Regions from separate parts of the Homo sapiens genome. Here region 1 is linked to region 2. Evidence: fine-mapped expression QTL. A gene starts in region 2. The other region holds a variant in brackets. All regions are shown on one strand. Distances are between the middles of the regions. Region 1 overlaps HHAT (hedgehog acyltransferase). Region 2 holds the start of HHAT (hedgehog acyltransferase).

Region 1 (8,339 bases), 77 kb after region 2:
GTCCGATACTGCTCTGAGAGCTGCTGGCTCTTACAAACTGGTAAACAATAAAACAGTAGCATGTAAGTGACCAGGTGTCACCTAGAGCTTTGGGGACACTGCACACACCTATCCCTTCCTCTAACCCCCTAGGATCTCCATAGGCACATTCAAAATCTTGGGCAGTGTTGGGTATTCTTTCTTCAATCACTGTGGGACTGGAACTCCTGTGGTATCTTTTTATTCATTCATTCAGTCACTCATTCATTGATCCAGGTGACAACACTTAGCATTCATGTGCCCTGCATCAACACAGTGATGGGAAGGAACATGATGGGAAATGTGAGATGGATGACCTGGTTCCTAGTCTATTCTATTCCCCATCTCTTCCTACTCTGAAGCTGGAGCAGTCATTTAACCTCTGAGCCTCAATCTCATCATTTGGAAAACAGAAGTAATAAATCCTCTTCCTTCCTCATGGGATTGTTCTGAGAGTCAAACGGGATAATCTATGTTAAGTGATTTTGTGAAAATTGTAGCATTTTGAAAGTTCAAGTATTTTTTGCTGTTTTTAGTCTACCTTCATTTTTCTCACTCTCATTAATGATGTGGGGCTAGCATTTTAAGCACGTATGTCAAAATCTGGACTTATGAGAGTATATCAGATAATCACTCCGTTTTAATGAAGATACTTCCCAGAATGATTAGGCAACCATTTAGGCAAGTGTGCTTAAAAACAGATTTACAGTAAAAATAAAAACAAGCTCATACCTAACCTTTTGGGGACCTGGCAAGTGTACAAACAGAATCTAATTCCATTTATCATTTATTTGGGGACAATTAGCATCAGTTATAGATGTTGGAGGTGAATAAATGTTCATTTGTTCTGCAAATTTTACAGTGATTTGAAAAACACTGAGGAAGGAGATCATGTGATTAGAAACTAGCTGGGTTTCCATGCTTTTGCACATGTGGTTCTCCTGATATGATTATCCTCTTTTCCCTTGGTGGCTGCTAAAGTCTTGTACAAGAAGTAGAAACTCTGTTCAGTGGTTGGTTTTTCTGTGTACAGCTTTAAGAGACCCTGATGGATCAAGTTAATTACTTTCTCCTTTGACCCAAGTTCTATTTCTCGTATGTATTTCCATAAATAGTTTTTCTCACTAAATGTATTTTTGGAAAACATGGAAAATGTAGAAAAATATAGAAATTAGAAAATACTTCATAATTTTACTCCCCGATATTAACATTTTATTGTATTTCCTTCTCATTTTTTGTTCCATGCATATTTTTGCACAGGTTATTTCTTGTTTCATGCTCTATTGTAATTGCATTTTTACACATCTACGTCCTGTATGAGAATTTAACATATTGAGGGCAGGGACTTTTTTTTTTTTTTTTTAAATATTTGTCTGTAAAGCTTATTAGACAAATGCTACTCAACTAAATGTAGAGCCAAACTGATAACAAAAGAGGAAAACGAAAAATACATTGAAGACAGAAATCCCATGGGACATTTTAAGCCCCTCTTTGTTATCTGAATTGTTGAAGAAGCTGTCAAAGTATCCACTGGATGTAGCTAATCTGCACCTTATGCCCTGGATGTATCTGATACATGCCTAACTGGGAAAACCTTCGTTATGTTGTGTCAGACCTAATGCTAGGTTAACATTAGAGATGTCCTTTTTCCTACTGCTCATTAACTGCTTGCTTTGATTACCAATGAGATTTACCTGGTGTTCATTGGTTCTCGACTGCCTTTTATGGCACAGCTGCTCTGCCTGAAGAAGAAATTGCCTTCCCAGAGCCCCCTGGGATTCTCAGATGACGGTGGCCCTGCTGGCCAGCACCTGCAGTGGGACTGGACGATGTCCCTGCTGGCCACTCAAAGGTTGTTCTCTCCTTTTGATTTTGTAGAGAAGGTGGTACAAGACAGAAAACGAGTACTACCTGCTGCAGTTCACGCTGACCGTTCGCTGCCTGTACTACACCAGCTTCAGCCTGGAGCTCTGCTGGCAGCAGCTGCCTGCTGCATCGACCTCCTACTCCTTTCCCTGGATGCTGGCCTATGTCTTTTATTATCCAGTCTTACACAATGGGCCCATCCTCAGCTTCTCGGAGTTCATCAAACAGGTAGAGCCCGCTGGGGATGGGATTGGGATTCTATAGCTTAAGCCTTTGTCGCTGTTGCTCTGGTCTTCTCTGACTCTTGAGTCGTTTTGTTCAGAGGTGCCCACAGATTTACAACACATACTATTAGTTCTCATGAGGTTTTTTGTAATAGATGAAATACATATGAGAAATGAGCCTTTAAAATAAAGTTTGACCCATCAGATATGTCAGCTCTAGGGGGTCCCACCTTGATTTTCAGTGAACTCTGGCAACCAGGATTAATGAGTAGGGCACAACAAGGAGTTTGGGAGTTGGTATCCACTGTGGCAAAGTCCCAAGGAAAGAAAAAAATTTGATTATGATGCTATTACTTGAAGGAATAGAAAAGGAAACTGTCTAAGCTGTTGCTTGGCAAATAGTATGTTTCCTTTTATATTCACAAGCTGCTTAAGAAATAGTCCTGCCATAGCCTGGGAGCTGTTCAGGGTGACCTAGGTGTGAAAACAGAGTGGAGTTGAAGTAAGTTCGAAGGCAGTGGTGTGTGTTCATGTCTGGATCCCCCTTTGTGCCCAGGCCCCCGCCTGCCTTCCTCGGACGGCATCCTTGTCTGAAATGCCATGTTAAGCTACCTCTGTTGTTCCCCCCTACTTCACTTTTCCCCCTTGTTTAGAACTTTCTTTTTTTTCTGCCTCCTCAACCTACCTCTAGTTTCATGGAACATAATTGCTAAGTTAATTCACCTAAGGAATTAGTAATTGAAAATGCCTAAAACAGTGTTCTCAAGGGATATTCTATCCCTCACCAACAAAACAATCCTCATAGAGGAGAAAATAACATGTACGTGCATACACAGACATGCATGCACACGCAGAACACATACCCACGCATACGCACACACCTGGAAGGGCAGGGCAAGCAGCAGTGTTGCACATTTCTGGGCAGCAACATGAAAGTTGCTCCCTGAAAAAGGAGGGTTCTTAGAAATCTTATTTTGTCCTCAAAGTTCCACTGAATTATGCATTGTATTCAAGAATATATTTTTGCATTATAACAATAACATAATGTTCTAAAATTTCCAGTGAAAGTATGTAACTTTTTATATCTCTAGAAATCTGTAAGTGAAATTGATATTCTAGACAGATATGTTTAGTCTATGGTTTCTCATACCTCGGTTTGGGATCGTTCTTTTGTCATGAAGGAATTTAAAATCTGCATTTGAAATTGTGTTTAAAATTATTGTGTAAAAGAGATGGTTTAATGATGGCAGCTGATCTTCTAACTCAATGATTTGCAAAGTGTGGTTCCTGGACCAGCAGCATCAGTATCGCCAGAGAGCTTGTTAGAAATACAAATTCTCAGGTCCTCTCCAACCTCCTGAATCACAGCCTCTAGGGATAAAGCCCAGGAAGGTGGTTTAACAGGCCCTCCAGGAGGAGGGTGGGAGTAAAGGTAAGGTGGGCACAGCATAGGGTGGGTTCCTCTCTTTTACAATCTCCTTACCTTTGTGAACTTTTGAATTATTCTCAGTTTGCCAGCCAATAACTTTTGGACCAAACATCCACACACAGACACCCCTCTCCTGAGGATGGCTGGTAATTTTCAGAGAAACATAAACTAAATCCATTAGAAGGAAACAGATTATTTTCCTAACTTCCTCCTGTATATAAGCTTTGCCTGTATGCTCTGTACTTTGTTATTATGCAAAATAATTGTTTCTGTTATTTCTCATCTCCTTTTTCTTCTTTTTTTTTTTGAGACAGAGTCTTACTCTGTCACCCAGGCTGGAGTGCAGTGGTGTAATCTCAGCTTACTGCAACCT[C/T]CACCTCCTGGGTTCAAGTGATTCCCGTGTCTGAGCCTCCTGAGTAGCTGGATTACAGGCATGCACCAGCAAGTCCAGCTAATTTTTTGTATTTTTAGTAGAGACCGGGTTTTGCTATGTTTCCCAGGCTTGTCTCTAACTCCTGAGGTCAGGCAATCTGCCCTCAGCCTCCCAAAGTGCTAGGATTACAGGCTTGAGCCTGGCCTCCCTTTTCAAATTGTGCCTTTTAGGGTCTAGTAAGAATATTAGAGGCCTCTAGCAGGGTCCTGTGTCACACAGAGGCACGCTTTAAGATTATCTTCCACCTAAATCCTTAGCCAAGGGTTCTCATTCTCTTGAGTCTCATTCTGGGGAAGTGAAGGGGCAGGTTGCTTCCTGTAGGGGCCAGGTATAGACACTCTGGGTTTTATCCATGTCTTTTCCTTCCCTCTCTCTCTCTTCTTTTTTAACCCCTTCTAAAACAATAGCAATTGCTGACAGCAGGGAACTTGAAAGGGCAAATTAAAACCTCTATGTTTGGGGGAGTATTCATAGAATAGTCATTCTAGAAAAGGATAAATGTTCAGTAAGATATAGGGCAAATTTAAAAAGCCAGGAGGTTTCTGCACTTGCTGAAGGTGGCTGTGGGGAACTTCCCTTCTGTGGGGAAGGGGGCTTTAAAGGGGCAGGGGGTTAAACCAAAAAGCTTATCTTGCAGTGAAAGGGTTCTTTCAGAGAAGCCAAAAAGGAAAAGGCTGGGAGGTGGAGAAAGAAAGCTAGTTGGAAGAACTAGTAAGTAAGATTTGCTCTGAATGAATGCTTGAATGAATGCATGCATGAAATGCCTTCAGCTATAAGGATTGGAAATATTGAAATGCATGGTTCTTAGACTGGCAGGTCAATGCATAAAAATAACGTAGAGCAGGAGAATGACGCTGCACCACCAGGGGGCAGCAGTGCCCCATTGTGGAAACCAACCCCAGCGGGAAATCTTCACCCAGTATCTGCAAACTCCAAAAGATCAAATGACAATGTTAGTTTTAGGCATACACCTGGAGAATGTGTCTTCCACCCAATTTACATACACAAAATGAGGGAGGTATAGAAGCGTTGTCTTCTGCAATGTAAAGCATGTGAAATTTGCATAATTAGTCACGAACAGGTAAAAATTTGCCTCTGTGCCTTAACTTGAAGGCTATTTCTGGTGGCATTTAGAGTTTTAGGAACATGGGCCTGATTTGTTTTTCTCTCACGTTTCTGTGGAACTCGGATACCAAGTCAGCGGTGAGACAGGGATCCTGGGGGACTTAGGGAAGGGAAGGACATGGTGTTTACTTGCTTAGCCTGAAGCCTGGGGCCACTACGTCTTGAAGAGGTTGACTGGTGTGGTGTGGGCACTGGGGAGAAGAGCAGCCTTAGGGTGGTGGGCCAGGGACTCTTCCTTGCTGGGCACTGTGCTCTCCCACCTTAGAGAAGCCAGTGGTCAAATAGGGAATTTGGCATGGAGGTTGAGAGCAAAGGTCCTGGAGCCCACCCTCCAGGGTTTGAATCCCTGCTGTGCTTCGGCTTGAGAGTGCTTGCTGAGTTACTTACCTTACTTATGCCTCAGTCTTCTTATCAGTGAAATGGGAAGAATAATAGTGCCTCCCTCAGGATTGCTGTGAGGATTAAATGATTGTGTATAGGTAATGTGGTTTGACAGGTTAATACTATAAAGTGTTAATTCTTACTCTTATTATTATTTGAGACAGAGTCTGGCTCAGTTGCCCAGGCTGGAGTGCAGTGGCACAACTTTAGCTCATCGCAACCTCCACCTCCTGGTATCAAGTGATTCTTGTGCCTCAGCCTCCCAAGTAGCTGGAATTATAGGCGTGCACCAACGCACCCAGCTGATTTTTGTATTTTTAGTAGAGATGGGGTTTTACCATGTTGGCCAGGCTGGTCTTGAACTCCCGACCTCAGGTGATCCGCCCGCCTCGGCCTCCTAAAGTGCTGGGGTTACAGGTGTGAGCCACCATGCTCGGCCTCTTACTTTTATTATTGTGATGATTGGCCAGAAAGCAAGTGTAATTCTAGGGTAGTTTAGGTCAGAAGTGAGACCCTGGGTATCCAGTCTGGTAGGCAGGCACAGCAGCAGGGGACTCTGGGCCATGGCCATGCTTGGGCTCAGAAGAGGCCAGTGTGCTGGTTCCATCTATTTGAAGAGAGACCCAGGCAGCTGCTGCAGGAAAGGGATGGGGGCAGTCCAAGAGTTGCTGGGACTGGCAAGAGCTGTGCAAGGCAGTCAATGTCCCAGAAGCTTTGTTTAGTACTTGGCATGGGCTCTGGTTCTAGAGAGCACCTGGAATCATGCTAATTGTAATAAAATATACTAGGTGATCATTTAGTCTGAGCCAGGCTTTATACGTTCTAACTTAAAATGTTTGAGATGGTCTCACTCTGACACCCAGGTTGGAGTGCAATGGTGCAATCATAGCTCACTGTAGCTTTGGCCTCCCGAGCTCAAGTGATCCTCCCACCTCAGCCTCCTGAGTAGCTAGGACTATAGGTATGCATCACCACACCTGGCTAATTTTTTAAAAATACTTTTCTAGAGATGAGGTCTTGCTATGTTGCCCAGGCTGGTCTCAAACTCCTGGCCTCAAGTGATTCTCTTGCTTCGGCCTCCCAAAGTGCTGGGATTACAGGCACACACCATTGTGCCTGGCCATTCTAGCTTGTTTAATCCTCACAACCTGTGAGAGAGATACTGTCATGACCACTTTACAGACAGGGAAACAGAGGCAAAGAGAGGCTATTACAATGCAGATAGAGTGAAGGGAATCAAGACATGAGCCTTGTTGCGCTGACTTGGTGTGTGAGAGGAGTTAGAGGGGGATGGAGTGTGGCCTAGTGGACATGAAGGTCTGGAGGCTCAAGCAGGCTGAACCAAGTACCAGCCTTGGTGGCAGCAACACCTGCAGGCCCCACTTGCTGTTCTGGGAGAGCTCACTGGATGTTGCTGGCCTTGGTCTGGATGGCTAGCGGGTGGGAGTAATGTGGGTCTGATTAGGGAATGATTTGTTAGGAGTAGGGGTATGGTCTGTGACCAGTATAAAGGAATACAACAACTGCCACAAGGCCTCCTAGACCCAAGCAGAGAGAAGCTAATAAGTTAGTGGCCCAGGTGGCCCAGTTGAATATCTGCCTCTGGGGAGGGCTTTTGTTTGGTGCTCACAAACATATGTATTATTCGTGTATGAAGAAAAAGAACCTTTCATCTTTGAGAACTGTCATCTTTAATCATCAGAATATATTTGGGAGAAAGAGAAAGGCATAGCTATTCCTTTTTATGCAATTTGCATGAAATTAGGTTTTAAAGTATAATGCATTTTGAAATGCACTTTGCAGATGAGTTAATGTGTATTTTTTAGTGATGCCTGAACTTCACAATTTCCATGGTGGCAGTTTCCAGTGGTCTAAAGGTTTGGCAGTCCCCTAGGTTTGAAATGTCTTAAATGAAATACTTTGCATGCAGGCAAGAGAGCCGCCCTGCACATTAGATGAGCTATATATGGTCTGTCTGTTCTTCCTGCTGGGTTGACAAGGGACAAATTTTGGATTTTTTTTTTTTTGAGACAGAGTCTGGCTCTGTCGCCCAGGATGGAGTGCAGTGCTGCGATCTTGGCTCACTGCAACCTCCACCTCCCGGGTTCACGTCATTCTCCTGCCTCAGCCTCCCGAGTAGCTGGGCCTACAGGTGCCAGCCACCACGCCCAGCTAATTTTTTTGTATTTTTTTTAGTAGAGACGAGGTTTCATCGTGTTAGCCAGAATGGTCTCGATCTCCTGACCTTGTGATCCACCCGCCTTGGCCTCCCAAAGTGCTGGGATTGCAGGCGTGAGCCACCATGCCTGGCCGGATTTTTTAAACAAAAGACAGTCAACTAGATTGCAGATGTAAATGGACTGTAATAATGATATGACCCTAAAGAAAGATGAAAAACCTTTTGTTTTTTTTTTTTTAAGTAAAAGCAAATAGAATGAAAGTTGGATTGTTTTTCTTTTGCTGTGTTGTTTATTTGTAAATTTTTTTTTTTTTTTTTTTTTTAAGATAGAGTCTCACTCTTCACCCAGGCTAGAGTGCAGTGGCACGATCTTGGCTCACTGCAACCTCCACCTCCCAGGTTCAAGCGATTCTCCTGCCTCAGCCTCCCGAGTAGCTGGGATTACAGGCACCTGCCACCACGCCCAGCTAATTTTGTATTTTTAGTAGAGACAGGGTTTGACCCTGTTGGCCAGGCTAGTCTTGAACTCCTGACCTCAAGTGATCCGCCCGCCTTGGCCTCCCTAAGTGCTGGGATTACACGCATGAGCCACCATGCCTGGCTTATTTGTGCAATTAATAAACATTTCTGTTGCTTGGAGCAGGGAGGCAGTCAGCACCAGAAAAGGAGTGTTGCAGAGAAAAG
Region 2 (8,339 bases):
TTCTTCAAAAGAGCTATTTTGAATTCTCTGTCTGAAAGGTCACTCTGGGATTGATGCCTTATTTAGTTTGTTTGGTGATGTCATGTTTTCCTGGATGGTCTTGATGCTTGTGAATGTGTGTCAGTGTCTGGGCATTGAAGAGTTAGGTACTTATTGTAGTCTTCACAGGGTGGGCTTGTTTGTATTCATCCTTCTTGGGAAGGCTTTCCAGGTATTCTAAGGGACTTGGGTGTTGTCATTTAGGTTTGGGTCACTGCCATCATATCTGCATTAGAGGGCACCTCAAGCTCAGGAATGCTACGGCTCTTGCAGACTCAGAGGTACCACCTTAGTGGTCTTGCATAAGATCTGAGAGAATCTTTCCCCAGCTGCTGCTGTAGGATGAGGGAGGGGTAGCGTCTGCAATTCAAGACTGTCTTCTCTACGCTTTTCAGTGCCTCTTTCAGTGATATGAAGTTAAAACTTGGTACTGCAATGGCCCACTTGATCTTTGGTTCTTATTAAGGTGTTTTTTGTTGATAGTTGTTCATTTTGTTGTTCTTGAAGGGAGGACAATTGGTGGAAGCTTCTATTTGGCATCTTGCCCCACCTCCCTTAGATTTTGATAAATTTTAAGTTTTCATACTGCCAAATTGCTTACCCAACTAAACATTGTGTGTGAGTGCTATCACATAGCACCCATGCCAGGCTGTAATGTTATTTATTAATTTTTTGCCAACTTAATGTGTGAAAATTGTGTGTTCTTGTTTTTTTTTTTTTTTTTTTTTTTTTTGAGACGGGGTCTTGCTCAGTCACCCAGGCTGGAGTGCAGTGGCACGATCTCGGCTCACTGCAACCTCTGCCTCCCGGGTTCACGCCATTCTCCTGCCTCAGCCTCCCGAGTAGCTGGGACTACAGACACCCGCCACGATGCCTGGCTAATTTTGTTTTTGTATTTTTAGTAGAGACGGGGTTTCACCACGTTAGCCAGGATGGTCTTGATCTCCTGACTTCGTGATCCACCCACCTTGGCCTCCCAAAGTGCTGGGATTACAGGCGTGAGCCACCATGTTCTTGTTTTACTATGCATTTCATTGAGCTTTTTGCAATATATTTTTGTTTCCTACTTTTATTTCCCTCCTCCTTTTTCTAGTGGGTTGTCTATAAATGTGTCTTGCTCATCTATAATTGATTTCTAATGTTTTCTTATTGATTGTATTAACTCTATATATAATTTTAAAATTAACACTTTGCAAATTTCTTGCAAATATCCCAGTCTATTGCTTATCTTTAAATTTTGGCTATTATGGCCAAGCATGGTGGCTCACACCTGTAATCCCAGCACTTTGGGAGGCTGAGGCAGGTGCATCACTTGAGGCCAGGAGTTCGAGACCAGCCTGGCCAACAAGGCAAAACCCTGTCTCTACTAAATAGCCAGGTGTGGTGGCTGGTGCTTGCCTGTAATCCCAGCCACTCAGGTGGCTAAGGCACAAGAATTGCTTGAATCTGCAGTGAGCTGAGATCATGCCACTGTGCTTAGCCTGGGTGACACAGTGAGACTGTCTCTAATACATACATATATATATATATATATATATATATATATATACACACACACATAAATTTTGGCTATTTTTATTTGATGTTTCTGATTGCCTGTGTTTAAATCTGCCTTTATCTCCTTTGTGTTCGCCGGTGAATTTAAAGTGCATATGTAGACAGGGGTTAAGTGTAAATCACACTGAACCTATATTAACAACAGCATCTTTTAGAAATAATATAGGAGCTGTTATCACATCCCTGTCCCTGAGTTTGACACTACCTGAGTTGAGTTCTTATTCTGCCACTCCCTCTGCCAAACCCTTGGATCTAGAGTTGACAGATAAAATACCCAGTTAAGTTTGATTTTCAGATACCCAGGATGTAAATTTGAATTTCAGATATACCATTTTTTTTTTTTTTTTTTGGTAGAGATGGAGTTTCATCATGTTGGCCAGGCTGGTCTCGAACTCCTGGATTCAAGTTATCTACTCACCTCGACCTCCCAAAGTGCTGGGATTACAAGCTTCCTGTAAGTACTTAAAAAAAATAAGTATATCCCAAATATTGCATGGGTCATAGTGATACTAAAAAGTTACATATTGTTCACCTGAAATTATTTACTTATTTTTTTGAGACAGAGTCCGGCTCAGTCACCCAGGTTGGAGTGCAGTGGTGCGATCTGAGCTCACTGCAACCTCTGCCGCCCGGGTTCAAGCGATTCTCGTGCCTCAGCCTCCCAAGTGGCTGGGATTACAGGTGCAGGCCACCACACCCGGCTAATTTTTGTATTTTTAGTAGAGACGGGGTCTCACCATGTTGGCCAGGCTGGTCTCAAACTCCTGGCCTCAAGTGATCCTCCTGCTACCGCTCCTAAAGTGCTGAGATTACAGGCGTGGGCCACCGCGCCCAGCCTGAAATTCAATTTTAATTGAGTATGCTGTATTTTTATTTGCTAAATCTGGCACTCCTATTTGGGGCTAGTTTACTAACACCTGCTTACTGAACACCATCCAGTACCAGGTTTTGGGGTGAGTGGGTTGGGGGGAAGCAGAAAGAAAAGATAGCTCCAGCTCTTGGAGAGTTCATACTCTGGTTTCCTGGAGAATTCTAAAATCATTAAAATAATCCTCTCGACCATTACAATGACTGCTAGATGAAATTTCTGAGAGCACAGCTTCCGAGTTTCCCTGCTGCCTAGGGCAGAGTTATCCACCTTCACCTTATCATAGAACCACCTGAGACGCCCCTGCCATGGACAGTCTGATGCTTTTGGTTTGGGGAGGGATCCAGAAGCCCGAGGTTTTAATGAGAGCCACGTGATTCTGCTGAGATAAGTCTGGAGAACTCTGGCAAGCCTGTCTCTTGGCTCAGGCTTGGAGGCCTCCGAGCAGCAACATCGTCCCAATTATACCCCGTTGGAGCATCTTCAGATCTTCCACTCTTTTCACAACGCAATCAAAATCTTCGTACCCATTTTGCAGTAGTGATCTCTGTAAGTTGCTTTACAATTCATAAAGTTTATTCTATTTGATCTTCACTCTAATTTACAAAGAAAAGCAGGGAAGTCTATTTCTGTTTTACAGAGGTGTACAGGGAGGCTCACAGGGGCTAAGTTCACACAGTAAGCCCTCGAAGCTGCCAGGGCTGCAAAGCCCACCCTCTTTCCACCGCACCGAACTACCTCCTTTCGCCTACAAAACGTAGGTGGGGACCACTGGTGTTGGAATGACGGCCCACCTCGAGTTTCAGGTGACTTCCACTCTGCAATTAACTTGCAGGCAGCCCCAGACCTGCAATGAACACACGGGTGGGGGAGAGATATGCACGCCAGGGTCAGTGGGAACCAACAGCCGAGGGGTGAGCGGGGCTAGGGGCCCCGGGCCGCCGGCGGGGCAAACGCGGTTCAGAAACGCAGGCCGCGCTCTGGCCCGCCCCCTGCAGCAGCACGGCCTGCTCGCCATCGCCCGGAGAGCGCCGCGGGTTCCCGAGTCCGGGCGCGGAGGGCGCGCGGGCACGGCGGCAGGGGCGTGCTCGGAGGACGCGCGCTGCGCTGCTCCTCCAAAGGGCAGCTCCGGGGGAAAGAGGGTGGCGTCCCGGGGAAGCCCGCAGCCGCCGCCGATGTCGCTGGGACTCGGAAGTGCCGAAAGAGGGGTGTTGGGAACTCGCGGCGCGCGTGAACGTTGCCGTCGCCGCCGCCCGGGACAGCCCGGAGGTTGGTAACTGGTGACCATAGGGGGTCCTGGGGAGGTTAGATGCTGAATTTTCTGCGTCAGTTTACTCTGTTAAAAAAAAAATGCACAAAACGCTTTCCGTTTCCTACCCAAGTTCCCGTGTGCGCGCCCGAGGGCGGGACAGAGGAAGTTCCCGGTCGGGCGAAGAAGACAAAAGCGGCGGGGGCCGCGCGCGCAGTGCGCCCGGGCAAAGGCGGGGATCTAGGCGCCGGGACAAGTCCGCGCACGGCCCTGCCCACGTCCTCTCTCCTTGGCTTCGTCCCCAGCTTCCGGAACTGCTGCGGGGAGTTGCGAACTCTGGTCCTCTTGGCAGTATCGGCGGTGCGCCTGCCTGCCTGCTGTGACTCCAGGGACTCTAAAGTTAGAGACTTCCTTTGCGTTCTATCTTCAGGACTCAGTTTTCTTCCTCTGTTCTGAGTCTAACCTTCAGGTGGCAGGTCTTTATGCGGAAAAACCCTCCCGCTAATCCTCACCAGAGGTACTTTACGGGTAGCATTGGTGTTAAGAAATGTGCTGCTACCTGTGTACATTGCTCTTGGATCAGGGTTGTAGGGCTAGGGCATTTGGCATCCTCAGAGGTTTGCATTACGTGGGAGTGAGACATTGCTTCTCTTTCTGTTTTTGTTGTTGTTTGTGTTTTTGAGGCGGAGTTTCGCTCTGGTCGCCCAGGCTGGAGTGCAATGGCACAATCTCAGCTCACTGCAACCTCAGCATCCCGGTTTCAAGCGATTCTCCAGCCTTGCCTCCTGAGTAGCTGGGATTACAGGCATGCGCCACCACGCCCACCTAATTTTGTATTTTTAGTAGAGACGAGGGTCTCACCGTGTTGGCCAGGCTGGTCTCGAATTCCTGACCTCGGGTGATCTGCCCACCTCGACCTCCCAAAGTGCTGGGATTACAGGCGTGAGCCACCGTGCCTGGCATCTCATTCATTCTCAGAGCTAAGGACCTATTTCAATGTGATTAAGTGCTATGGGAATGCAAGGAGAGGAGAGGGAAGGCTTCATTGAAGAGGCGGTAGTTCATTGAAGGAGACTTTGAGGAATGATTTTTTTCCCCTTCCATTCCTCATGTTCCATTTTCCCTGTGATTTTTCTCCCTCCTTTCTCGTTGCCAGTCAGTCCCTAATTGTGATTGTTTGATAAGGACAGCTCTGACCTGAGAGATTCAATTAATGTTAATTTAAGGAGACTGTGTGCTTATTAGGTGCTTTAGATACATTATTTCTAAACCTTACAGTAACTGGGAAAGATAAGTGTTGTTATCTCTTTTCACAGTAGGATAGAGAAAGCCTTGGAGGGGAGCCAAAGCCACAAACTAGTACATGTCAGGGCCGGGTTTTGGACTCCTCTTTTGGATCAACGCCTGTGCTTTATCTACTGTTTACTTTGCCCCCTCCTTGGAAGTAGGTTAGATGGATGAACTTAGGGTGAAAGTCAATTCTTTGGAGGGAGCAGCCGTTTTTGTGGGTGGCCAGATGTTGGTGGGAGCTCTGTAGGTAGCATCAGGAACTTGCGAGCATGGGCCTTACCTGCACCCCCTGCTTCCAGCTTAGGACCTGGCCCAGGGGGAATGTTCCCTAAAGCAGTGGTCCCCAACCTTTTTGGCACCAAGGACCGGTTTCATGGACAATAAGTTTTTCATGGACTGGGGGAAGGGGGATGGTGTTGGGATAATTCAAGCACGTTACATTTATTTTATTTATTTGTTTTGAGACAAGAGTCTCGCTGGGTCACCCAGGCTGGAGTGCAGTGGCACGATACTGGCTCACTGCAACCTCCACCTCTGGGGATCAAGCAATTCTCGTGCCTCAGCCTCCGGAGTAGCTTACAGGCATGCGACACCACATCTGGCTAATTTTTGTATTTTTAGTAGAGACAGGATTTCACCATGTCAACCAGGCTGGTCTCAAATTCCTGAGCTCGAACTCCTGAGCTCAAGCCATCCTCTCCTTGGCCTCCCAAAGTGCTGGGATTACAGGTGTGAATCACCATGCCCCACCTGCATTACATTTATTGTGGACTTTATTTCTATTATTATTACATTGTAATATGAATACAACTCACCATAGAGTAGAATCAGTGGGACCCCTGAGCTTGTTTTTCTGCAACTAGGCAGTCCCATCTGGGGGGGTGTGTTGGTAGACATTGACACCCAAAGTGTGTTTGCTTATGTCCAGCCTACTTCATAGTCTCATTTTGGTTGCTGTCACTGCAGAAGACCCTGCTTCACAAAGATAGGATGTTGGAAATGGAAGCAGGCTTTTCGGTGCTTTTGTGGCAATTTCAGGATACTTTGCCTTGACTTTAATCCAGAATGTATGGATATTTGAAGTTGTCTTAAACATACTTCTAGGGCCCGGTCATTTGCTATCTCAAACAGTTGGTCCTCTTCTAGCATGGACAAAGTCAATTCACCTGGCTTATTCACAAATGGATCTAGGATCCTTCCCAGTTCGGGTGTCTTTTGTAGTTGGGAAGTAATGCTCAAACTCTTTTGAAAGCTGAGATAGGTGATCATGCACCAGCTGGGAGAGAGAAGGCCCTGGCTTAGTCTCTTTCAAAATCTCTGCTAATGTTTGAAACGTGTCAGAAATCCCAGTGTTCACTTGTCGCCGCAATAATTCCAGTTTGGTTTTGAGTGCAGCCACTTATCTGCCGACTTGAACACAGTTCTCCCCTGAAGGGACAGATGGAGTTCATTGAGGAGGTAAGCAAGTAAGCAAGTTTTGTAACCCCTTCTATGAAATGTGCTGCCAGTGGTGACTACTTTTCTAGAAGAAATCTCTGGAGTGGCCCTCATAACTCAAACTCCGGCCAGTGATCTATCTTTAGAAAGCCATCCCACTTCTGTGTATAAAAGATGTGTGTGCTCTATGTCCATCTCACAGAGCTGTGTGAACAGATGTGAGTTAAGGGCATGTACTTTAATGTGGTTGATAATTTTAATCACATCCTGCAAAATGTTCTTAAGTTCAGGTGACATTTTTTGGCTAGCCAACACTTCTCTATGGATGTCACAGTGCATAGACTCACATTCAGAAGTGACCTCTTTGGCCCGAGTAGTGAAACCAGTCGTAGCAGTCGCTCTGCCCAAGCACATACTACCCAAAAGGACCAATTCGGTTTTTCTGATAGGTAATCATTCAAAGACTTGAATAGTTGTGCAGCTGTGGTGTTGGTTAGCAACAAAAGTGCAAGTGACATATCCTCGTGCACCTAACATCTTCATGTATATCCTCCTGAAAACTGTATCACAAAAAAACAAGCATTGTTGCCTTGTCAACACTGGTAGACTAGTCAACCCAGATTGCGTACCGCAGTGACTCATTAATCCTCTCTACCAATTGTGCCTCAATATCCGCTGCTATTTCAATTCGCCTAGTTTACTCTTCACCAATAGTAAAGGGCTTCTTAGCTTTAGCAATACGGTTAGCCACTAAGAATGATACTCTCATTGCAGACACATTTGATGAAATGGTAGCCTTCAATAATTGCTTCTGTTCTTTGTGCTTATGTTTTTTCTTTTGAAAAACTCCGAAGCCTTGTCTTTTAATGCAGGGTGCTTGGTCTCCATGTGGTGAAGCAGTTTTGAAGGTTTCATGGCTTCATTGGATAGCCAGTGGCCACATATTACACAAAGTGGGCTTGGAGAATGTGAGTCACCTGTTGCAATGAACCTGTAATTTGAGTATGACTCCTGGTATTTTCTTTTAAATGCAGCTTGCTTTTTGTTGGCAATCTTACAGTCTTCTGTCTCATCATTGGGTCTTCCCCCTTTTCAAAGAAGCTTACCAGTGATGTTTGTTTTTTACTCATTTCGGCTAGGGTTAGCTTGTGGGCTTACCAAAACTGTGACTGAGACAAATGTGCAGTGCAGGAAACAGGCACACCTGGAAGTGGTAAATAATGGGCGGGCCATGAGTGGACTAAAATAAGTGTCGGATTCTGACTGAAAGCCTGCCCACAGATGCAGCTGTACGATGGAAGTACATCAACTCACTTGCCACTATAAAGCCTGCCACCAGGCAGCATTAAGCTACTTGTTACTTGACACTCACTGATAGGATTTTGATATGAGTCTGCAAGCAATTGATTTATTATGGTCTCTGTGTAGTCAAACCTCCCTCTTAATGCTAATTTGTATTTGCAGCCACTCCCCAGTGCTAGCATCACTTGTAGTCCCAACTACTTGGGAGGCTGAGGAGGAAGGATCACTTGAGCCCAGGAGGTCAAGGCTGCAGTGAGCTATGATCAGGCCACTGCACTCTAGCCTGCATGACAGAGTGAGACCCTGTCTCTTAAAAAATAATAATAAAATGAAAAAACTAAAAAAGCTCCAAATGTATGAGTATATGTACTTCTTTATCAATGCAGTAAGTAACAAAATTCAGTGCAGTAGCAAGTAACTCCTGTAATTTCAAAGTAGTGATGCCCATGTAAATGGTATTTTGTAGTATTTTCAAAGGCTACACAGTAGTATGAAAGTATCTGACTTTTACTGGTGACATTCGTCAGAGCTGCTTTTACTACTATGATTTTTTTTTTTTTCTGAGACAGCGTCTCACTATGTCACACAGGATGGAGT

What was found.
Region 1: its variant is fine-mapped to the expression of HHAT in whole blood (INTERVAL, PIP above 0.99).

The regions. Positions count from the first base shown.
Region 1 is chr1:210,402,568-210,410,906 of GRCh38, forward strand. HHAT (hedgehog acyltransferase) reads left to right here. Exons shown (of 12, transcript NM_018194.6): 6 at 1,897-2,112. Among named protein-coding and RNA genes, the nearest start is that of HHAT, 78 kb to the left of the region's middle. The variant C/T (reference allele first, on the strand shown) is at 3,911.
Region 2 is chr1:210,325,372-210,333,710 of GRCh38, forward strand. It overlaps HHAT (hedgehog acyltransferase), which reads left to right and starts at 3,531. Exons shown (of 12, transcript NM_018194.6): 1 at 3,531-3,733. RefSeq lists enhancers at 2,704-2,873, 3,748-4,107, 5,220-5,389 and a silencer at 3,338-3,587.